4 linked regions of the Homo sapiens genome follow. The protein of the gene in region 1 purifies or fractionates together with the protein of each later gene. This does not show direct contact. Each region holds a gene or a part of one and is shown in the gene's direction. Other genes may lie near its edges.

What was found.
Region 2: the proteins of SLC38A1 (region 1) and CDS2 purify together in Homo sapiens (affinity purification with mass spectrometry; one large-scale study listed by BioGRID and IntAct). This does not show direct contact.
Region 3: the proteins of SLC38A1 (region 1) and SLC39A14 purify together in Homo sapiens (affinity purification with mass spectrometry; one large-scale study listed by BioGRID and IntAct). This does not show direct contact.
Region 4: the proteins of SLC38A1 (region 1) and MAIP1 purify together in Homo sapiens (affinity purification with mass spectrometry; one large-scale study listed by BioGRID and IntAct). This does not show direct contact.

What each region holds. Positions count from the first base shown.
Region 1 is NC_000012.12:46,181,892-46,186,891, reverse strand, and holds the end of SLC38A1 (sodium-coupled neutral amino acid symporter 1), read left to right. Parts: 3' UTR 1-3,829; downstream 3,830-5,000. UniProt on the Homo sapiens protein: Symporter that cotransports short-chain neutral amino acids and sodium ions from the extraccellular to the intracellular side of the cell membrane. The transport is elctrogenic, pH dependent and driven by the Na(+) electrochemical gradient.
Region 2 is NC_000020.11:5,171,129-5,175,507, forward strand, and holds part of CDS2 (phosphatidate cytidylyltransferase 2), read left to right. Parts: intron 1-2,394; coding exon 2,395-2,531; intron 2,532-4,054; coding exon 4,055-4,151; intron 4,152-4,379. UniProt on the Homo sapiens protein: Catalyzes the conversion of phosphatidic acid (PA) to CDP-diacylglycerol (CDP-DAG), an essential intermediate in the synthesis of phosphatidylglycerol, cardiolipin and phosphatidylinositol.
Region 3 is NC_000008.11:22,411,399-22,415,777, forward strand, and holds part of SLC39A14 (metal cation symporter ZIP14 isoform a precursor), read left to right. Parts: intron 1-638; coding exon 639-808; intron 809-3,381; coding exon 3,382-3,504; intron 3,505-4,370; coding exon 4,371-4,379. UniProt on the Homo sapiens protein: Electroneutral transporter of the plasma membrane mediating the cellular uptake of the divalent metal cations zinc, manganese and iron that are important for tissue homeostasis, metabolism, development and immunity.
Region 4 is NC_000002.12:199,957,703-199,961,599, forward strand, and holds part of MAIP1 (m-AAA protease-interacting protein 1, mitochondrial isoform 1 precursor), read left to right. Parts: intron 1-1,565; coding exon 1,566-1,637; intron 1,638-2,051; coding exon 2,052-2,178; intron 2,179-3,897. UniProt on the Homo sapiens protein: Promotes sorting of SMDT1/EMRE in mitochondria by ensuring its maturation.

The sequences.
Region 1 (5,000 bases):
CTTTAAAAATACATAATTTAGTTTGCAAGCTATATTATGCTACTTTCTATTTTCCTTGTTACTTTATAGCAATTCATTTTACCCTCACAAAGTCAATTTAGAACCTTATCATTAACTGGGATGTGTAGTGATATTTTTGGGCCTCTGGGTTTCATGTGTCAATACAAGGAATATTTATTTAAAATAGATTTATTTAGAGGAGGCACAGTGTTGTTGATCTGTGTGACACCACCCATATTTTTAAAAACCTTTGTATGTTTCTCTAAATTTGTTGTTGACTGAATATAATAGACCCTACCATAATTCGTCAAATATCACTGATTAGTTACATCCTTTGTGTGAGATTAGCTGTAAAGTATACTGCTCTTATTCTTATTCAGAATAGTTAATTGGTAGCCAAAAATACATGTATCACAGATGTTAGGTCGAATTTAAACAGCACAGTCAAGTGCTATGGAAGTTTTTCTGCTAAATTAGTAGATTAAAGAATACTATACCCTAGGCATGGGGAGCAGCACGTTTTCCTTTGGTAGGTAGGATCTCTATACTAGTGAACAGTGCCAGTTCCACACTTTGGACTTAGAACTGTTCTCTAGTTATTGTAACACAGAATACTGTCAATCCCTAATTTACTTAATGTTACTTATTGGAAGTGGGGCTGATGAAATACGCACAGGAGGGAAATCTACTGTGTTTAGGCACAGGCAGCCCCAGTGTATAAGGAGATCATATTCCAAAAGGTTGTCAGTTGGTTGTTTGCAACCTGGAATGTATTTTCCTTTAGAGACCAGGTTATCCATGGTGGTTAGGCCCCTAGAGCAGCTGGAAAAGATGATCAAACCAATAGGTTAGCTGACATCGAATAATGTAATAGGTTTGCTAAAGAATCTAACCATCAAATATAATATTGTTTCCAGGGAGGGTGTTTGTTCAGAGTTGCCTGTTAGTAGAATCTGGACTGTCCATCCCAGCCACATCCCACCTACTGGACAGTAGGGGTAGAGATGCCACCAGACTACAGGTGACCAGATTGGCCTGAAACATGGTGTCCAGTAAAAACGGGGAGGAATAAGTCCATGACTGCTGGAGAGCTTGGTGGTAGGAGGAGGGTGAAGGAGGGTGAGGGGGCCTCTCATGGGTCAGAAACCTCCAGGGACATCCCTCAGCTGGTAACTCTGCTGTTGTCCGGAGGGTTCAGGCTTGGTGTGCCTTCTTCTGTTTGTCTGACTTTTGGCTCCTATGGTTCATCTCCTGCCCTGCCCACCACAGAAAAGGATGCTGCTGCATAGCTTCTCCAATGTACCAGTCATTGAGGCCAGCGCGCAGCACTTTTAATGTTTTTAGTGCTAGTAACTGTGTTTTAACTCTCCAGGAATAAGCTGGGAGGTTAGAAAACAAGAAAAAAGGGGGAAAAAAAAACCTCTCCACCCACTTTCCTTTTTTACAGTTACAGACCCTGTTGAGAAAAAGAAGCACCCAGATGGGTGATGGTGATAGGGCTTGTGGTGGACACAGGGTTGTGGTAAGATTCCTCAGTGCTTCGGCGAGCACCTAAGACTATTACCCTGGAACTGACTGCTTTCTAGAGCTTGATTCATGCCTCTAAGCCAGTGGTTCTCAAAGTGTGGCCCCTAGACCAGTAGCATCAGCATCATCGGGGACCTCATTAGAATGCAGATTCTCAGCCCCCTCCCAGACATGGTGAAGTCAGAAGCTCTCAGGGAGGGACTCAGCAAATGATTCTAAAGCGCATCAAGTTTGAGAACCACCCTAAGCCAATGAGTCTCCCTTTTACTTCCCATTAGTCCTCCCTCACCAGATGATTCCTAGGACTCATGGTGCAACATACAGGAGCCAGGCTTTAGGGAGGGGAGGAAAGGAGCCTGGCGGCAGGGGTCTCTGCAATGGCAAGAAAGTGAGTGAATCCAGCGCTGCCACCTGGTTATCCCCTTCTCGTTGAAAATAGCAGCGCAGGTGCAAATTCCTAAACACAGGCTGCCTGCACTCGGTGTTACCTCGGGCTGAGGCATGATAATATTTTATTTTTTAAAGCTGTGAGGAAATGAAAGTGAGGCTTTGGTTGGGGCGAGGCAGTTGTGAAAGAAATTAAAATAAAAGACCCTTTGTAAATGCAGACTTAGAAGAAATACTGAATTTGTGTCAGAAGTTCTCCAGTGTTTGTGTTAATCGTGTGGTGATAATCCTGTCCTCCTTTTAAAGCGAATTCTCTACTGAAAGGTCTGCTCTGCTTAAGGAGCTACAAACTGCTCTCAAAAGAATGAAATACTGAGTTCCAATTCAGTGAGGCACAGTGTTGGACTATGGCACATTTAGTTGGAGTCGGGGGGAGGTCAGGAATATGATCAGATAATGGATTTTATACCTTAGAGCAAAATCTATTAGTCTCTCTCAGTTTATCAATTTAAATGGCTTTAGGCTTATAGGGGGTGTAAACTTTAAGAATATAATTCTCCCATTCAAGTTTACAGCAAACATCTAGCCACCTTCAAAACAAAGAATATACAGACCATCATTTAGCAATACTAATACATGATTTTCCTTGGGGATGGCAGGTTTGAGAATCCTTTAGCAACAGGACATACTTCCCCTAAATTACAGTGAATTATTTATAACGAGATAAAGCTTTCAGGTACAAGCTGAAGGTGGGGTGTCTAACAACTAAAAACTATCACTAAATCTCAAAGAGAAAGTTCTTGCAAAATATGTAAAGTTCACAAGGTGCAGACATTTTCCTTCTTTAGGCTTTTATCTAAGGAAGGGCTATGAAACTGGGCCCATCTGTATACAGGCTCAAATTTACGTTTTTAAAGGAAGAATCTATGCAGCTGAGGCTTATTGCAGGAAATACTTCATTTGTATGTAAATATTATTGTAAATAAATAGGAGGCTGTATATTTTTGAAGTTGTTGATCTGCACTGAAATAGAAGTCTCTAGGATCTGCATATAAACAATAAATGTTTCCTAGAAATTAGTGGTTTTGTTTGGGAATTAGAAAAATTTACATTCTCTCCCAGGTAACATAGTTCTCTCAATGTAAACTTGGAACCTGAAACCCTACTTAATTTAGAGAAAGAAATGTCTGAGAAATAGTTCCCTTGATTTCTTATGCTGGCATTAAGATCAATTATTTAACAGATAGTCCTCTGAGATACAAGTAAGGAATATTTAGACACAAATCCTTGTCCTATAGAAACAGATATACCCAAATGACAAATTGTTTCTTCATAATGATCTTCCATTTTTAACACTGATACCACTACACAGTACATATGAAAACAGAAGCTGGGGAGAAGAATGTTTTTTTCACAATTGAATTGCTGCATTTCTCAAACTTTGGGATCTATGAAAGCGGGGAGAGGGAACCTGAATATTAATTATGAGCACAAATTTGAAGGAAAGAAAACAAAGAACCATTATCTAATCAAGCTTTGAAAGTCCTGCATGTTTGCCTTTTATTTTAGTGTTGACGCCAACATAGACTGTCTAAGGTATTTTTTTCCCCAAACACTTGAATCTTGGTCGTTGGTATGTAATCCACTCTCTAGAGTCCAGTGTACTTTAGACTTCATCTGAGTCCAATACATGTACCACACTACTGTTTTATTAATGTAAAAACCTTGTAAATGAATTTCAGATGGGTGATTTAAGTGAGTCACAAGTCACAAAACTTTGCTATTCATAGTTAATCAAATAGAACTGGGTTTTTTTTTTCAGAGTGTGGTGTAAATAAAGAAATATAAGAAGTTCTGTTCTATAACTGCTCTGTTAACATAGTTTTTAAACATTAAAAAATGTGAACTAAAAGTATTTAAAAATGTTGTGTTTGTTCTTTTGCAATGCAATACTAAAATGGGGCAGTTGTGTACTATATACACTATTCAGGATTGCTGGAGAAGGGTTATACATATTTGTCAGTGTTCTAGATCATAGAAGGTTATATATTTAAGCACCCTAACGTAAATATTTTTAAAAATACTTCTGATAGAAATCTATCTGGTCTGAAACATATACCACATTTCTCCATTCTTCATAATCAGAGTAGATTCACCATAATATTTTCTTTTTTAAGTCAAGTTTACCTTTATAAGTATTAATTTCTGCCCTGTGTTGTAGGAAGGAGTTGAGTCTTCCTCTACCCACATTGCTGCCACCTATAAAAGAAGAAATTCTATCAACACTTCATTTCTCAGTAACTATTGGGTCAAAGCTAGTGCAGCCTTGTCTTTTTATCCATCACCAACTCCTCTCCAGCATCTTAGAAAGGCTTTACCAGACCAGCAAGATGGCCAAAGTCTGATATCCAAGTTCTTCTTGTGGACAGGGCTAGCACAGGAATAGCCTGGGTCTTTTACGGTGTGGCTGGGAATGAAGACCCCCTTGATGAACTCTTCTGGCCTACCCAGGTGACAGCAGTGCATTCTGTAGGGCCTCGGTGGCACACACGCAAAACTCAAAGTAGAAACCTGGGGTACGGGAGTCCAAGTCATGTTCTCCAATATAACTTCGTTAGGAATAAAGCTGATATTTTTATCCTTACATGCTTCCTATGCCTACTTCTTAATTGATCAAAACCCCAAGGGCAAAGGGTGTGAGTGAGTAATTAGCACTTTTAAACTCAAGCAGTGGTAAAAGTTAAAAGACTATTGAGAATCTGAGCAGATTTTGTTCCAAATTGAAAGGGCCAGTCCTGCAGTGCCTTTGATAGTTCTGGCTTCTTCCTTCTACTCTCCCTCCATGAGTATTTGCTAATACTGTTCCATTCCGTCCTTTTTTACACAGAATTGTCAGGGAAGAGCTATTCTCTGCCTTTCCCATGGAATTAACTATGGGCTTGTATTAGGGCTCTCCAGAGGGACAGAATTAATAGGATATATGTATATATGAAAGAGAGTTTATTAGGGAGAGTTGGCTCACATGATCACAAGGCGAAGTCTCACAATAGGCCGTCTGCAAACTGGGGAAGAAAGAAGCCAGTAGT
Region 2 (4,379 bases), on another chromosome or scaffold:
AAGGAGTCAGGTCTGACAGTGTTGCAGGATGCAGTGCTGGGCTAACGGAAGGTCCAGAGAGGCTCTTAGCACGGAGCTGGAGCTGCCTGCTCCTCCCTCGCAGGACGCTGCCTGGGTTCCGTTCCTGTCCTTCCCTGCCTGGGGAACTAGCAGCCTTTGTGAGTCTCCTTGACAACAGGATGGATAAGTTAAAAATAACCTTGTGCCGGGCTTTCTGTGTGTGAGTGCCCTCTCCCCTGCTGCTCTGGAGCGCAGTCCCTGCAGCTTCTAGAGGCTCCTGAATGCATCTGTGGGAGCCTCAGTGGGGTCCAGGTGCTAGCATTTTGAAGCCCCGAGGTTTTAGAGGTCAAAGCCAGGTGATCAGGCAGCATCATTACCTTGTAACTCGCAATGATTACCGTAATATTACTGGCAACTGGTGGTTGCCGATGGTGTGTGGGTGTCAATGTTGAAATAAAGATTGGACAGCTGTTGTGAATGCTTTGTCTTCATTTAGTCTCCCTGGAGAGGGACGACTCTGGAGACCTTACTGTGTTTCAGAAACTCTGGAGTGGTGTACTGGGACACAGCCCTGGGTGAGAGTTTGGTTATGTCGCTTCAAGGAATCCCCATGGGAAGGAGGGTCCTTACCTTATATAAGGTGAAGACGCCAAAGTACAGAGGCACTTGGGTGACTTATCCAGAGCCACCTGTCTCGACTGTGGCAGAGTAGGGAGCAGTCTGTGTCTTCAGAAGCTGTGGCTCTCTCCCTTGGATCCTAATGATGAGGCCGTCTTTATTGGGCCTTTACCAAAGCCAGCTGTCTCTTTTTTATCAGCAGTCTGCACTAGGCGAGGCCCTCTGTGTTGCTAATCTGTTTTGTTTTTCTGTTTTGCTCATCTGCACTAGTTAAGGCCCTCTGTCTTGTCACAGTTGTAAATTAATTTAGAAAGAGCTGTCTCCCTGAGGGCAGGGGCTGGGTTTTTCTTTACACACCTGGACCTAATTCTTCTCTTCTTCCATCCATTAGTAAGTGTTTTGCTGTGTGCCGTGCATGGGGATAATGAGAACAAGAAGTTATGTTCTTGTCTTTAAGGAGTTTGTCGTCAGCCAAGGAGACATTTACAAAAGTCCCCGTTGTGGTCAGCGCTGAGAGGGAGAAGGTTCTAGTGTTAAGAGAGCAAATCACTGGGGTGTCTAACCTCGCCTGAGGTGAAGGTGGGGGTTAGAGCAGTCTGAGAGAACATATTAGTAACACAAAGTACTCAAATCTGGAGCACATAAACCACTACAAATCAATAAAAAAAGGAAGGCAGAAAACTCCGTAGAAAAACTAGCCAGTGATTTGACAGACACTTGACAGAAGATACCAAGTGGCCAGTGAACATGTGAGACAGTCACAATTCCGTGTATTCATCAGTCATCAGGGAAGTCAGAGGACCTGGGTTAATATGAGACATTGGGCCACGCATTGAACTTCCCAGATCCCGTTTCTTATTTGTAAATGGGGCTTCTCCTGTCCCTTCCCTTCCTCCCAGTACTGCTCTGAAGCTTGCATGGGAAAGGCTCTTCAGACCTTGCAGGGCTATACAGATACTAAGTAGTGTTGTTACTCTAAGTGATTTACTTTCTCCTCCACCTCTTCTCATAGCAACTATTCTGAATTCCCCTATGAAAGAAAATACTTGAGTGGTAGGATGGTTCCTAGGATTCAGAATAGCCTGTCCCTTGATACTTTGGGTAAAGAGCTTGCTGCTGGCATGGCTCTGGTTCCCTCACCCAGGCTGGGAGCAGGGTGACTTCCTGTGGGTCTTTTGTCACCCAGGGCCTGGTGGCAGGGAAAGGACTGAGGTGCACCAGTCCTGGCTCGAGCGTTGTCTGGAGTAGGCTGTCTGGTTCGTTGTCCACACTGACTGTGATTGACCTCCTCACAGAGTGCTCTAGTGAAGTCCGGAAATAACACTCTGGACTTGGGACATGTTGACATTAACAGGTCTACAGGGGCAACAGCCTCACCACCTGGCTTCCCCTGAGAGAGCCTGGTCAGTGCCATTGGCTGCCCTAGCAGGCTCAGGGATAACCTCCTGTTAAAACCGGTCCCAGCCTCCCTTTTGCATTCTTTGGATACAAAGGAGCCATGTTCTCTCTCTTTTGGATCTGCCCTCTGCGGTTAAGCAGATGGTACGCGGTGCAGATGCACACCTCTCTTCCAGCAGAGTGTGGCTGGCCACCTTGGCACATGTCACAACAGTGTCAGGATTGCTGCTAGTCCTGTCAGTCCCATCACCTGACTGTGCCAGGTTCTTAGGCCCTGTTTGGAGTCTTTCCCCACAGATCTCTCATGACAGGCATAGACTTCTCAATGGTCTACTCGGCACTTTTGACCTTTTTCTCTTCTGTATTTCTGCCACTTAGGAGTCAGAGTCAGAAGCAAAGGTAGATGGAGAGACTGCATCGGACAGTGAGAGCCGGGCAGAATCCGCACCCCTGCCAGTCTCTGCAGATGATACCCCGGAGGTCCTCAATAGGGCCCTTTCCAACTTGTCTTCAAGGTAACCTGGCTTAATGATGCAGGTGCTTGTTGGGGGCTTTGCACCATGTCCAAGTGCCCTGGAAGAGCCTGCAGAGAGCCCGTGGTCTTGCAGAGCAGGCCCGCTGTCTTGCCTCAGCCTCCCATGCCACTGCTCCAGGCTCCATTGAGTGTAATCTAGTGCTTAGCAGTGGCAGTGAGCACAGTGACCAGGAGGGGAGGGCAACCAAGGCTGGAAGGATCTGGCCCCGGAAGGGTGCTTCAGACTGGACTAGGAAGTGCAGTTCAAAGAGGAAGAGGGGACAGGAGGGATGGAGGTGGGTGAGGTCAGCTGACACTGCACAGCACAGGAAACCAGCCTTGGGTTTGCGATTAATGGGCAGGCTGCTTTTCACTGAGGAGTCCACGTTTCCAGTTCAGAGTTTAGTTTCTCTCACATCCTTTGTGAACAGTTCCTTAAATTCTCCAGGAAGAACTGGGAAACATCTTAACCTAGGTGAATCTAGTGTTAAAACTTTTGGCCCTTGAGAACCTGGTTCTTTTAACACAGCTATGTGAGTAGATCAAAAACACATTATAAGACCCCAAAGCATTATCTCAGTGTTCCTATGTGTGCCTCCAACTGTCCCCTTGGGAGTCTGAATTGTGCAGTGGTTAAGGGCGTGGACTTTGCAGCCAGACCCTTGGATTCAGATCCCAGCTTTACTGTTTGCCAGCTGTTTGACCTGTGCCTCCATTTCCTCATCTGTAAAAGCGAAGTGTGTTGAGGATTGAAGGAGTTAATATATGTAAAGTCCTCATAAAATTACCTTACTCAGGCCGGGTATGGTGGCTCACGCCTGTAATTCCAGCACTTTGGGAGGCCGAGGCGGGTGGATCAGGAGGTCAGGAGATCGAGACCATGGTGAAACCCCGTCTCTACTAAAAATACAAAAAAATTAGCTGGGTGTGGTGGCAGGCGCCTGTAGTCCCAGCTACTCGGGAGGCTGAGGCAAGAGAATGGCATGAACCTGGGCGGAGCTTGCAGTGAGCTGAGATTGTGCCACTGCACTCCAACCTGGGCTACAGAGGAAACTCTGTCTCAAAAAAAAAAAAAAAATTATGCATATTTATGGTAGCTGTTATTATCATTGCATAATGTTACTATTATTCCCATAATTATTCAGGGCAGTGCAGTGTAGGATCCTGCTGCTGGAAAAAAATATTTTTTTCTTCAGATAGTCAGCTGTAGAAACCATCCAAGTGGATACAGAAGCAGAGGGCACTACATTTCCCTTGGTTTTTTTGTTTGTTTGTGTTTTGCCTGATACCTTCTTTAAGATATAAGCTAGGTTTATTTTTTGCCAAGTTTGGTTGTGACTTAGGCATTGGTACTAGTGGTCCTGCTCCTGCCAGCATGTGGCTGGTGCCTCCGTCACGGTGAATCTGGAAAGGACTGAGCTCAGGGCCCTCATCTCAGGAAGATCCATATCCCTTGAGTTTGTGCATTGGTTTTTTTCTGGGCTCCTAACTGGTGTTTTCTCCTTCCCCTGCTCTCTGACCTAGATGGAAGAACTGGTGGGTGAGAGGCATCCTGACTTTGGCCATGATTGCATTTTTCTTCATCATCATTTACCTGGGACCAATGGTTTTGATGATAATCGTAAGTGCCATTTCACACTATTTTAGTTTTCCCTTCAGTTTTTGCTGCAGGCCCGGTTGTCTTAAGTGCGAGGTGTTGGGTTGGTTGTGGGAATTGACGGGGGTCCAGGCTTCTCAGAAAACCTCTGCCATAGAACATCTGTGACTTCCCACTTCTCAGTAGCCACCTGGAGGGTCATTGGTGTAGGCTGGTTGTTTATGGTTGAAGATGTCTCAGTGTCTTTTCTTT
Region 3 (4,379 bases), on another chromosome or scaffold:
AGGTTAAGACACTGAATTTTATGGGCATTGGGCATGAATTAATCGTTCTCCATCCCTTCTGCCCTGCACATCTGGCTTGGTTGTGTCTTGCACAAAGCAAACCAAGTGGTCGTGGTGTCACCCGAGCCTGCGCCGTGTGAATTGGACATGCAAAAGCAAACGCAGCAGCAGAGTGATCAGCCTCTTTCCACCTGCTTGCATGTCCTATAAAGAGAGCCCTCGAGTCCAAAGTCTGTCCTGGACAGCCTCTGTGATAGGTCTGGGCAGACCTTGGGTGTGTGACGAGGCAGCACCCTGCCCTGCCAGTCACACCACTGGCAGGAACGATTTGGGGCCACCAGTGGCCACAGGGGCAGAAGTCACAGGGTTCCAAGGCCACCTTGAATTCCTCTTTCTTCTGAACTGATTGAAGGAAATTTCATCAGATGTGAATCACTAACAAATTTTCTATTTCTCTCTCCCTCCCTACTTGTCTCTCTCTGATTTTTCTTTTTTGTTCCGTTAATATCCACCAAACTTTTCCTTGCGACCTCCCTATCTGCTCCACCTTCCTCCCGCTAAATGGTGGTTGCTGTGCAATGGGGCATGTGCCTTCTCTCCCTGCCCTGGGTGGGGCTGGCCCTCCCTCCGCACGGCAGTGTGGGGATACGGTCTCCTCTGTGTGACCGTCATCTCCCTCTGCTCCCTCCTGGGGGCCAGCGTGGTGCCCTTCATGAAGAAGACCTTTTACAAGAGGCTGCTGCTCTACTTCATAGCTCTGGCGATTGGAACCCTCTACTCCAACGCCCTCTTCCAGCTCATCCCGGAGGTATGGCAAGCCAGGGCCTTCACCCCGGAGCATGCCGGCGGGCACAGTGGGAGGACCTCCGTTTGGATAGAAGGCATAGAGAGGGCACCTGGAGGCCCTTTCCTTTTGGAAAGCGAAGCTAGAACTTAGGCGTGAACTAGGAGAGGCAGCCCAGCATAGGCTGAAGAGCTGGGTTCAAATCTCAGCTCTGCTATCAGTAGGTTCCGTAACCCCAGGCACACCACTGACCTCACACTGCCTCTGTTTCTTCAGATGTGAAATGGGGAGAGCAATAGACCGGCCTCAGGATGATGTTGTGAGGGTGGAACGAGCGAGTCTGCTGCAGCACTGAGTGCCTGGTGCGGAAAGTGCTGTCTGATGTGGGGTGAAAAGATGCAGTGTAGCGAGCTCACTCTGGCTTAGTTGTGGTGCTCAGATTAAGGCTTTGGGTGCAGAGAAGTTTAAAAAACATCATCAGCCGGGTGCAGTGGCTCACACCTATATTCCCAGCACTTTGGGAGGCTGAGGCAGGTGGATCGTTTGAAGTCAGGAGTTCAAGACCAGCCTGGCCAACATGGTGAAACCCCGTCTATACTAAAAACACAAAAATTAGCCAGACGTGGTAGCGCACGCCTGTAATCCCAGCTATTCGGGAGGCACAAGAATCACTTGAACCCAGGAGATGGAGGCTGCAGTGAGCCGAGATTGCACCACTGCACTCCAGCCTGGGTGACGGGAGTGAGACTCCGTCTCAAAACAAACAAACAAACTCCCACATCATCAGAACCCACAGTTCTCAGTAAAAAGATTGTCCATAGGGAGTTTTGGGGCAAAGGCAATGCAAGTCAAACAATGTCTGGTTTTATATACCTTGATGGTACCTTTGCCTAATAAGTTCATGAGAAAACTTGCCACAAAAGAAGGAGCTGATGGTTCATCTAATTTGGTGTAATCCCCTCAGCAGACCCATTAATTACAATAAGCACAGGACGTCTCCCTGTGGGTGGTCTCGCAGGCCTGGACAGAGCCGCAGTTGAAGCAGAGATGACTGCATGCGCCTCTTACAACACTTGGTGTTTTCTGAAATGTCAGTTGGCTCCCTCCTAGTGGATCCTTAGGTTAACTCCATGGCATCGATAGAACAAGTAACGTTTTACCACGTTGGAATCTGACCTGCACAAGAGCGCATATCCCTGAGTCGAGAACCCAGCTTTTGGGATTTCTGAAGCTCAACCCCATGATTCTGTATTCACCATCCTTTGTGGCTTTTTGCAGAGAAGTGTTCGTTGCCTATTTTCACTTCACTTTTCCCCCAAGATGATTCGACTCCCCTGGAAAGTCAACATGAAAGTGTTGTTTCCCTGGAGGGTGGTGATTCAATTTGGCCTGTTTAAAACATAAAGGCAACAAACAGCCCAGAGTTCCTTGAAGTTGGGATCAACTTTTATTTTGGACCAATTCATGAGAGGGCTGAAGTTTATTCAAGGCCCGTTTCCCATCAGAAAATGGAGGAACAACCCGGTAAATATATATACTTCCTATGTACCCACAAAAAAATTTAAGAATAAAATAGGAGCAAGTCGTTAGATACTTTTTTTTGTTTGTTTTTGAGACAGTCTCACTCTGTCACCCAGACTGGAGTGCAGTGGTGCCATCTCGGCTCACTGCAATCTCTGCCTCCTGGGTTCAAGCCATTCTCCTGCCTCACACTCCCGAGTAGCTGGGATTACAGGTGTGCCACCAGGCCCAGCTAATTTTTGTATTTTTTTTTTTAGTAGAGTTGGGGTTTCGCCATGTTGGCCAGGCTGGTCTCAAAACTCCTGGCCTCAAGTGATCCACCCACCTCGGTCCTTTAAAGTGCATGAGCCACCGTGCCCGGCCAGGTCATTAGACACATTCACAAGAACCCACCATAAATCAGGAGCTTACCCTAGGACAGAATTCTCTTGATTTCTACTCCTGTCCTCTTCCCAGTGGATTCTCCCCTCCCTCTTTGATAAGTGACAGTTTCAGAAAGGACTCAAAACAAAACCCAAAAATTGACGCTCGCAATAACACAGTCCACTTTCTTGGTTCTGTGGTCACTGGGAGGTCTGCGGTTAGGAAAACGCTGCAGTTCTTATTACTTAACTGGGAAATGGGTTTCCCGTTTTAGAAAGTATAATTACACCATCTCCCTTTGTGTTTACAGGCAGGTCAGCCAGGAACACTAGATAAGATGAAAATAAATACAAGTGTCTGCTCCTTCAATATGAAATCTATTGGCAGAGAATGCCTTCATAGCAAAGCACCAAGATAAATCAAAAGTGGAAAACCATATCGGAGGTTTTTCTTTCTGGGATTAAAATTCTACAGATGATCAGTCTTTTGCATCAGCAAATAAGCTTGAGAAGAACCTGGCAGGTTTAGTGATGTCACATCAGGGAAACACCAAGGACTAGATTTTTGCTGGAAAGAGGATGGGTAGACGGCAGAGTTACTCCATTATGCCTCTCTCCTTTCCTAGAGTCAAGGAAGTAGTTAAGAGATAAGAGGGGGATCAGTAAAGATGCTTTATTTTCTTTAAAACTCATTTTCTTTTCCTGGGTCCACAGGCATTTGGTTTCAACCCTCTGGAAGATTATTATGTCTCCAAGTCTGCAGTGGTGTTTGGGGGCTTTTATCTTTTCTTTTTCACAGAGAAGATCTTGAAGATTCTTCTTAAGCAGAAAAATGAGGTGAGGCCCAATTGTTGCTGAAGAAAGCTCTTCTAGGGAAAACACCCATCTCAAACAATGTTGATGTATTGTGGTGGTGGTGGTGATGGTCTTAGCCCAATATCACAATTTCCGTGAAACTCTAATTTCTTGAGGAGACAATCCCATTTCACCTCCTGAGGATATTTGGCCAGAAGTGAGGCCAGACCAGAAACTAGATCTGGCCAGGGTGCCTTCTACTAAGCAGTAGTTTATCCCCTTTGTTTTGTTCTAAGATTATTTCCTTAATATATTTGTATCTTTACAGGATGGGGAGAAGAGCTTGATACCATGCATTCATTCTGTATGAAGTATGAGGCTGCAGAGAAACAGGACTATTATAGTACAGTTTCAAAAAGATATCTTTAGTGGCTGGCATGCAGTTATTCCCTAAATAGCTGCTGAATTGAGTGAGATTAGCCATTGCAAAAGAGGAGCTCTAAATATTTGAGCAGTGGCTGCCTTGGTGGAATAAGCATGTACCCCGAGGAGACAGCTTTGATATCTGTCTGACACCAGGTCCTTCGCACTTGGTGCAGATTTATATATATAGATATTAGAAACGGGGTCTCGCTTCGTTGCCCAGGCTGCTCTCAAACTTCTCAGCTCAAGCAGTCCTCCCACCTCGGCCTCCCACAGTGCTGGGATTACAGGTGTGAGCCACCGTGCCCGACCATGGCTTTATATAATAGCTTTTGCTATGTTTCTGGGCACGTGACCTGCTTGTGTCATCTTCGATGGTAAGGCTGAGGTCTTCCAGTGTGTGAAGCACTTCCTTGGAGCAGGTGCTCAATCAGGTTTGTGGTTTTGGTGAATGTCATGCTGATCCCTCCCTGTCACCCTTCCAGCATCATCAT
Region 4 (3,897 bases), on another chromosome or scaffold:
AAGAACAAACTTGATTAAGATGCTTAACTCAGCATTATAATTGATAAACCTCTGCTCTTGTCAGTTCTCAAAGTCTTTTGTCCATGCAGTGGTAAGTTGTATTGATCCTACTGTTCTGTACAATGCCCACTGATGATATATGAGCTTGTCCACCTCATAACACATATGATGGTACCAGTTCATTTATGTTTCAGTAAGGAATGGAAATCATCTCCCCACCATGGGCAGGCATCAGGCCTCAGTACTTGTTTCCTCTGAACACACAGAGGAGCATGCAGCATTTTTGGGGTCACTCCAGTCCTAGTGGTCCTCCAGCTGTTAGCTATTTTCACCTCCTTCCTTGCTATTAAGCAGTATTTCCACCCCATTCATCAGCCAGCCTGTAAGCATTGTTGCTTATATAAAGCAAACAACCTGAATTTCAGTATCAAGGTGTCGGAGGGGTTGTTTTCTCCTGAGGCCTCTCTCAGCTTACAGATGGCCGTCTTCTTGCTGTGTCCTTGCATGGTCCTCCCTGTGCATGCGTGCTCCTGGTGGCTCTTACTCCACATTTGCTCCTCTTATAAGGATGCCAGTCAGATTGGATTTTGGCCCACCCTGATGGTCTCATTTAACTTAATCATCTCTTTAAGGCTTTATCTCCAAATATAGTCACATTTCAAGGTTCTGGGGGTTAGAGCTTCAGCATAAATTTTCGGGGAAGGAGAGCACAATTCATCCTATAACAGTTAGGCAGTATTCTCTGACATGCCATATCTGACATGCCTGTGCATCCTCTGGCAGCCTAGATTTCAGCTTAGATGTTTCTTCCTTTAGGAAGCCCTCTCTGATCCTCCCAGATTGGGTTAGAAGGCTCTTCTGTATGCTCCCAAGTCATCCTGTTCTTATCCCTGTCAAAATTCTTCAACTTGTCAGTTTACTTGTCCTTTTCCCATGTAGACTGAAAGTTCCCTGAAGACAGGTAGGATCTTAACTCACAGTTTGCTTTCTCATTGCTAGCAGTGAGGAGAATTGCAGTTGGGTTTTTCCCTCCTTGAAAATGGAATTTCATACTTCAAAGTTAGGATCTACTGTTTTAGACCACATAAACTAATGACCTTCTCTCCCACTTTCCCAAACCTACATTATCTCCCATACTGAGATTCAGACTACAGCCCAGATTTCCAGACTCCCAATGCAGTCTCGACTGTTCTCCTTTCCAACTGCTATCTATGCATGATTAAGAGGTAGGTCATATAACTGCCAAATGATTGTTTACTTCATCATTTTAAAAAGAAATATAAAGGAGGATTTTTATTGAGACATCTAGATTGTACACCACACACTATCATTTCCCGGTCCTGAGAGTGGATCCAGAATTAAAGGTCAAGTCACTTACTGCTATATATGTGGGAAGGCCATATATGAAAAGTCAACCAAGAGTCATGCCTTGATAAATTAATATTTGATGTTGTTTATCACTATTACCATAAAATAGTCTGTATTACACTTAGCCATTTAAATATGAACATGGTATGGTATTTTGAAATAATAATCCCCACACTTCCCTTAATATTTTTTTCAAGGCTTTTGCTCATGTATCCAAGTTGCTGTCACAGTGTAAATTTGATCTGTTGGAAGAACTTGTGGCCAAAGAGGTAAAGTATATTTTACATTTTGCTTTAAAAATAAATGCTATTCTCTTGCAATAGAATGATGCACATTTTCCTTATTTATGCTTAAAAATAGTGTGTGTGCCAGCATCCAAAGTAGAGTCTGTGTATCTGTTCTTATGGGTACTTTGGGTCATATAAAAGCATGGAATAACTCCTGCCACTTAAGGCATAATGAAGTAATCATGATGTCTTCCAATTGCTCTTATATGGAATGTTCTGTTAGGAATTACCTACTTGAATAATGAGATACATTTCAGCCTTGCTTTTGAGGATGAGTAAATACGGTAGTAAATTTAAAAATAGGTTTGGAAAAATGTATTCCATGATAAAGATCACTTTTTGAAAGTTTTCAAAAATTGTATCAGTGAACTAATGGCTTGCTTTTTTCAAACTTAGGTGCTACATGCATTGAAAGAAAAGGTTACTTCACTACCTGACAACCATAAAAATGCCCTTGCTGCTAACATAGATGAAATTGTATTTACATCAACAGGAGACATCTCCATTTACTATGATGAGAAAGGTAATACCAGAGCATAGTCAACTTGAAATGATCCATAATTGTCCAGATAAGCTAAACTAGTGGATAATCACAAAATAGTAGAGTTTTGTCAGGACAAGTATTTATAGAACTTCAAAGAAAATGTTATATCCATTCTTTAAAGACCTACTTCTGAAAGAGTTGAGATATGGTCATCATTTCTTAAGCCTTTCTATCTAGAACTTTTTTCTGCTACTATTTTATTCACAGTAGAGAACATCATCACTTACATTGATGAAAATAGTTTGAGTGGCTCCCACGTCTCAAATAGAAAATATTTATGTTTCAGATTTCCTAACTTGAAGGAAACAATTGAGTATTTTAAAGCTGCACTTTATATGGAAGGAATGAGGGGTAAAAGAAAATCAAATTAGATATTGTCAGCTAAAGACAATTTGAAAAGGTTAACTGCAGAACTCCCAAATTGGATCTATTTGAGAATAATGAAAAAAGTTGGTAGGAAATTTAGTGGTTATCTGGTTCTTCTTGTCTGAGGCATACATTTTCCCTATAGCATTCCTGATAATTCACTGTTTGTTCCTGATACATACAAAGTTGGCCCTCTGTATCTGGGGGTTTCGCATCCACAGATTTAACCAATCTAGGGTAAAAAATATTAAAAAAAAATAGTTGCATCTGTACTTGAACATGTGCAGTTTTTTTCTTGTCATTATTCCTCAATAATACAGTATAACAACTATTTACATTAGCATTTACATTGTGTTAGGTATTATAAATAATCTAGAGATGATTTAAAGTATACTGGAGGATGTGTGTTATGCAAATACTACACCATTTTATATAAAGGACTTGAGCATCTGTGGATTTTGGTATCCACAGGGGGGTCCTGGAACCAATCCTCCGTGGATTTTGAGGGATGACTCTATTTGCATATGTATTATGTGCCAGCCACACAGGAAATGGAGCCTCTGCTTATACACTTCCCAAGATGGAAGAAAAAGACTCTTAGTGATGATAAAATTTTTCATGCACACATTATTTTGAAATATTTGTAAAGATATTTTTAGTGATAAATATTTTCCGCTTCCCTAATATTTCAAATTGCATCTCAGCACCATGGTCACTAACTAATTTTTGCATCAGGAGTTTGTCAGAATCACCAGGCACAGTAAGGTGAATTGGGTAGAATAGGAAGCCTTTACTCTTTCTGGCAGTTGAAGTTAAGATAGTTACTGAGCAGCAAAAAATATTTTTTTTCTCCTCATTTTTGGTTTGACAACAGGTATCTGTCAGGAGATTATTATAATCTTAGAAAATGCCTGGCCAGATGTGGTGGCTCACACTTGTAATCCTAGCATTTTGGGAGGCTGAGGCAGGTGGATCACTTGAGCTCAAGAGTTCAAGACCAGCCTGGGCAACATGGCAAGACCCAGTCTCTACTGAAAATATGAAAAAATAGCCGGGCATGGTGGTGCGTGCCTGTGGTCCCATCTACTTAGGAGGCTGAGGTGGGAGGATCGCTTGAGCCTGGGAGGCGGAAGTTGCAGTGAGCCGATACTGCGCCACTGCACCCCAGCCCGGGTGACAGAGTGAGACTCTGTGTCAAAAAAAGAGAAAGAAAAAGAAAATGCCACTAATTGAAAATAATCCATGTAGTATACTTAGTAAAGTACGTGCTCAGTTAAGTAGTAGTTTTATTACTGAGATACAGAGAAGAGGGCAAGTATGCCATAAACCCTA